Regions from separate parts of the Homo sapiens genome. Here region 1 is linked to region 2. The links come from fine-mapping of genetic effects on gene expression. A gene starts in region 2. The other region holds a variant in brackets. All regions are shown on one strand. Distances are between the middles of the regions.

The links. PIP is the estimated chance that this variant, and not a neighbour inherited with it, causes the effect.
Region 1: its variant is the best candidate, but not a certain one, in a credible set for the expression of SENP7 in whole blood (INTERVAL, PIP 0.86).

What each region holds. Positions count from the first base shown.
Region 1 is chr3:101,364,754-101,367,672 of GRCh38, reverse strand. It overlaps SENP7 (SUMO specific peptidase 7), which reads left to right. Exons shown (of 24, transcript NM_020654.5): 9 at 904-1,243; 10 at 2,682-2,839. Among named protein-coding and RNA genes, the nearest start is that of IMPG2, 46 kb to the right of the region's middle. The variant T/G (reference allele first, on the strand shown) is at 1,498.
Region 2 is chr3:101,511,589-101,514,507 of GRCh38, reverse strand. SENP7 (SUMO specific peptidase 7) reads left to right here and starts at 1,296. Exons shown (of 24, transcript NM_020654.5): 1 at 1,296-1,417. The coding sequence starts at 1,378.

The DNA.
Region 1 (2,919 bases), 150 kb after region 2:
AAATGTAACTTTTCTTGGTGATACAGAGTTATTGGAACACATTTCAAATACTATGAATGATTAAAAAAGTTAAAATTGCTTATTTTCTTGTATCGCTCTTTCCTTAGTAGGTAGTTGTACATCCTTCAGACTTTTCTTTTTCTTTATTTCAGCCAAATACTATTCATACTGTCTAGTCATTTTTTTTTGCTTGCTCTGTAAAATTATTATTAGATTTATTTTATCAGTAGCAATTTACTTATCAAATTCTTTAAGCTTCTGTTTATCTAGAGTTTAGGGAATTTATTCTAAGTAAAGAATTATCATATTAAATACATACATTTTCTATTTTCAAAGACTTAGTATATAAGTAGCAATAAAACAGTAAGACAGCTTTTCAATTTCTTTGATCCATAAATCATTTCAGGACCTTGTAATGTTTTTGGGTTGTAATTATAAACATGATTCAGATTTATATAGTAAATGAGATATTGAAGGCAGTGGTTGATTTTCATAATTTTTAATGTTGTTATATTGTTGATTTTTAAATTTTTTTACCAAAGTAGTTTTACCAAAGTAGTCACATTGGCATTATTACTTTTGCAAAATAAAAATATGTAAATACATCTTCTCATTCTAAAGTTGACTTAGATCATGGGAGACCGTCTGACAAAGCATTTGTAATGATGGAAATCTCCCAATTTCACCCTTTAAAAAATTATCAGGCATCAGATTGGACAGACCAAATCCTGTATCTTTAAATTTGGGAGACATTGGCAAGTATAATGTAGTATAATTGTTTAGTTTTCTATCCATGTAGTTATAGAAGTGATATAATATTTTTACTTTTTTTTAGGAATTTAAAAATGGTTTAAGCAAGCCAAATTTGAAAAATGCTATTTTTTTCTATGTGTTTATGTTTAGAAAAAACAAGAAGATGACTCAACAATATCCACTGAGTTTGAAAAGCCAAGTGAAAACTATCATCAGGATCCAAAACTGCCTGAAGAAATTACAACTAAACCTACAAAAAGTGATTTTACTAAACTATCCTCACTTAACAGTCAGGAGTTGACTTTGAGTAATGCCACCAAAAGTGCCTCTGCCGGTTCAACCACTGAAACCGTTGAGAACTCTAATTCCATTGATATTGTGGGGATTTCTTCCCTGGTTGAGAAGGATGAGAATGAGTTGAATACCATAGAAAAGCCTATTCTAAGAGGACATAATGAAGGGAACCAATCACTGATCTCAGCTGAACCAAGTAAGTGACAGGAGGATTATAAAGTTACTTAATTTCCTCTGCTTTACTTAGTTATTTTTTTATTCTTCTTGAACAAATTTGGCTAAGGCCATAAGCTGTTTATGACATCATTGTGGAATATATTAACTTTAGGAAAAAAGGGCTTGGGGTTTGGGGTCTCCTTCATGAGTTTTAAAATATCGATTTAGGTAAACTAATGGAGGACTTGAAAACAGAAGTAATTTTTTTCTTAGATTAGTAAGTACACTGTCATC[T/G]CAATAGTTTTAAAATAGATTATTTAAAGACCATCATTACTGTCATTTGGTTGATGAATTATGCAGAGTTTAAGTGCTATCTGATTATTATCATTAATTTTCATTTAATCAGCTTCTGAGTAGTTGATGCCATCACATGGTACAAAGAAATTCCAAAGGTTTTAAAGGATCTCCAGTGAATACTCGCCCACATCTTCCCCTAGTTATTAATTTCCCATTCCTTGAAGCAATTCATGTAACAGGACTTAAAAGTACAATTTAGAGTGATGGCACAATACACTGTTAGAACTAGAATTTGTTACTAAGGCCTCCTCATGGCTTTATCCATTTTTAAACATCTTTATTCTTTAGAAGGTAAGGGTACAGGTAACTGCTGAATAATTGCGCTGATATAGAGTCATTGTCTGTAACTACTATAAATCAGATAACAACTGATAGGCCTGTTTCTAAATTGAATAAATTTAGATGATTCAGTTTAACAGGATTATTAAAAATAAATTGCATTAATTAGAAAGTTCTTTTTTTTTTTTTTTTTTTTTTTGAGACAGAGTCTCTCTCTGTCGGCCAGGCTAGAGTGCAGTGGTGCGATCTTGGCTCACTGCAACCTCCCCCTCCTGGGCTCAAGTAATCTCCTTAATCAGCCTCCCAAGTAGCTGGGATTATAGGCATGTACCACCATGCCCGGCTAATTTTTGTATTTTTGCTAGAGACAGGGTTTCACCATGTTGGCCTGGCTGATCTTGAACTCCTGACCTCAGGGAATCTACCCACCTCAGCCTCCCAAAGTGCTGGGATTACAGGAGTGAGCCACTGCTCCCGGCCAAAAGTTCTTTTTTTGATATGTGATTGTTACACATTTAAAATACATTTTTCGTCTGGGTGCAGTGACCCACACCTATAATCCCAGCACTTTGGGAGGCCAAGGCAGGAGGATCACCTGAGGTCAGGAGTTTGAGACCAGCCTGGCGAACATGGTGAAACCCTGTCTCTACTAAAAATACAAAAATTAGCTGGGCATGGTGGCGCATGCCTGTAATTCCAGCTACTCGGGAGGCTGAGGTAGGAGAATTGCCTGAGCCCGGGAGGTGGAGGTTGCAGTGAGCCGAGATGGGGAGACTGTGTCTCAAAAAATAAATAAATAAATAAATAAATAAACAAAAATACATTTTTCTTTTCCGTTTTAGTTGTTGTTTCCAGTGATGAAGAAGGACCTGTTGAACATAAAAGTTCAGAAATTCTTAAGTTACAATCTAAGCAAGACCGTGAGACAACTAATGAAAATGAGAGTACTTCTGAATCAGCATTGTTAGAACTACCATTGATTACATGTGAATCTGTACAGGTAATTTATTTCTGTCTTCTCATAGATTAACAATGAAATGTACACTATTGGTTAATGACTGTTATTTGTTTTATCAAGCT
Region 2 (2,919 bases):
TGCACTCCAGCCTGGGCGACAGAGCGAGACTCCGTCTCAAAAAAAAAAAAAAGTTAATTTGTGAGGAAACTGAAAATTCAATTATTTTTCAGAAAGCAATGTTTTTGTTAAACAGAAATTAACCAAATAAAACGAAATCCTTACAGTAAACTTCAATCCCAGCAAGACTTAAAGTATTTCTGCTTTGCAGTCATTCCTGCCATGTAGAACACTTCCCCAGGCCCAACACCCCACAACACCTGGGGCCTTACCTCTACCTGGGGACTGACCACATTATAATTAAGAAGGCTTAACTCACGATGAAGGGGACTGCTCTAGTGGACGAGTTGGGCCGATCCCTTTATTGACTCCGTTAGGATGGGAGATGGGGGTTGGAGGGATAGGCGTTAGGGGTATAAAGGGGCCAGCTTGGGAATCAAACCCTACTTCCAGAGTCCCTTCGGGCTTTGAACATGCCAGAAACATTTTCCCTGCTTAGAGCACTGTGCTGAATTTTGTTAAACTTGTGATTAAATCGTCATGAAAGCTTACACGTGCATTTAAAAATTATTCAGATATGCACCATTAGGGATAATCAGGCTAATAGTACCAGACCTTGAGTTCATTGAGGACTGGATTAGTCCCTTAAGTATCGTGGTAAATGTTAATTGAACAAATTCCAAGTTTATAGCCACCCACTTTCTGTCATATCAGCATTTCAGTTATTGAAAAATTAAGTTCTAGCTTTTCTTTTAAGGAACTTTAAAAATCACAAGTTCGAATTTTAAAAAGGAATCCTAAGACATTTTTCCTCGTCTGCTGACATATTTCCACAGCAAATGCTAAACTAATAGCTAGGCTATTATTAGGTGATTTTGCCATCTTAAAATCTTTTGGTTTCTGAGTTCGAGGAAAGGCGTTGGGGGCAAATATGTAAGAGAGGCTGTGAGGGATGTAATACTGCAAACGCTAACGTTTTGTTTTCATAGTTGTTTGGCCACCTCGCGAGATCCAGTGAACCGGAGGAGTTCCTGTTTTTCCCTTTTAATTTTTGTCAATCTAATCTTCAAAGTCAACAAAGCTAAAATCGAGCACCCAGGTGGTTCACCTCCCCAGAGGGGCTCAGATCATGAAATAAACGCCACCAAAAAAACGCTGGAAGAGGCAGCCCACAGTGAAAAGTCCCAGGAAGTGATTTCCGGTCGAAGGTGGGAGGGGCGGCTGATTTCCGGTCGAAGGGCAGGCGACGGCTCTTGCGCAAGCGCGCTTCGCACTTTGCGGGCTTTTTTTTTTTTTTTTTTTTTTTTTTTTTTTTCCTTTCCCCTCCCCCTCCCTCTCCAAGCCGGAGGGGTCCTGAGGTGACAGCGCCTGCAACTGAAATTTCAGCAGCGGGAGAAGATGGACAAGAGAAAGCTCGGGCGACGGCCATCTTCATCCGGTGAGAAAGGGTCAGAGAAGGGCTGAACATATTGTCTCCTACCCGGGGGAAACGGGAGGCGCAGGCGGCAGCTGGGGTTGCGGCCCGAAGCCGCGGGGGCGAGGGCGGGGGCGGGGAGAGGAAGGGGCGCGCACAATGGAAGGCTCCCGGGTCGCCCCCGCCCCTGGAGTCGAAGACCCGGTCCGAGCTGTCATCGAAGCCTCGGGCGCTCTTCACCTCAAAACCCCTTTTATTTTTTCCCTCCTCCCGCGAACACCCTCCTTGCGTCTCATCGGCCCATGGATCTTCCCGGTTGGCTTGTCACTCTCTGCCACGCCTTCCTCGTAATTCCACCAATGTTCCAATTTCATTTCGGCTTCTCAGCGCCTGACCCCACTTTCCTCTCTTCCTTTGATTCTCGACTTTGCGTCCCTTCCCCTCTCCCTCCTCTTTCCCTCAGCAGGTAGCTGCTGCTGGGGAGGAAAGGTGGGGCTTGCGACCGGAGACTCCTTTTCTTTGATACAATGCCTCTCCGGGTCTCGTTCTGCTGAACAGGCCCGCCTAATAGCCTTTTTCTTTTCCAGCCTACCCTGCGTCTTCCAAAAGTGATTGGAAAGTCAAACAAAGGATTTGAAGCCGTGCTTTCGTTGTGTTTTTATTTTCAGCATATTTTTTGTTTTGGACGTTACTTTGTTTTAAATGACTATCTTCAGTTTTGTGTACAACGTCTTGGAAACAAGAAAGTGGAGTTATAAAAACGTGAGGTAGAGCTCCTCCCAGTTGAGAAGTTTTTATCAAACATTTCATCCATTAGGGGGTCCTCAAGTCCTTGTGTTAAGTCCTATGGATGGTAGGAGGAGAGGACGAGGACTCATATGCTTACAGTCCAGTACACAAACGAACGCCCAATGAATCAATTATTTCATTTCATTTTTCTGTTTCTGATGGTACCGTTGGTTTCTGCAGAGACAGTTAACAATTACAGATTTATTGGCCGGGCGCGGTGGCTCACGCCTGTAATGCCAACACCTTGGGAGGCCGAGGCGGTCGGATCACAAAGTCAGGAGATCGAGACCATCCTGGCTAACATTGTGAAACCCCGTCTCTACTAAAAAATGCAAAAAATTAGCCGGGCGTGGTGGCGGGCGCCTGTAGTCCCAGCTACTCAGGAGGCTGAGGCAGGAGAATGGCGTGAACCCGGGAGGCGGAGCTTGCAGTGAGCCGAGATCGCACCACTGCACTCCAGCCTGGGCAACAGAGCGAGACTCTGTATCAAACAACAACAACAACAAAAAAAAAACAAAAAAAACCAATTCCAAATTTATTTAGGAGTGCCCTGTGGCAGTGCATCTCAAACTGCTTTCAGCCTTAATTGCAAAGGAGAGTGATTATGGATCTCTGGGGACACTGCTTGAAGCAGTTGAAAACCTGAAATCCCTTTTCATATGCAACCAATGTTATCGATGTTCTTGGTGTATATTCTGGAGATAATAGTTTTTTCCTTTGAAAGCACATGTATAAAT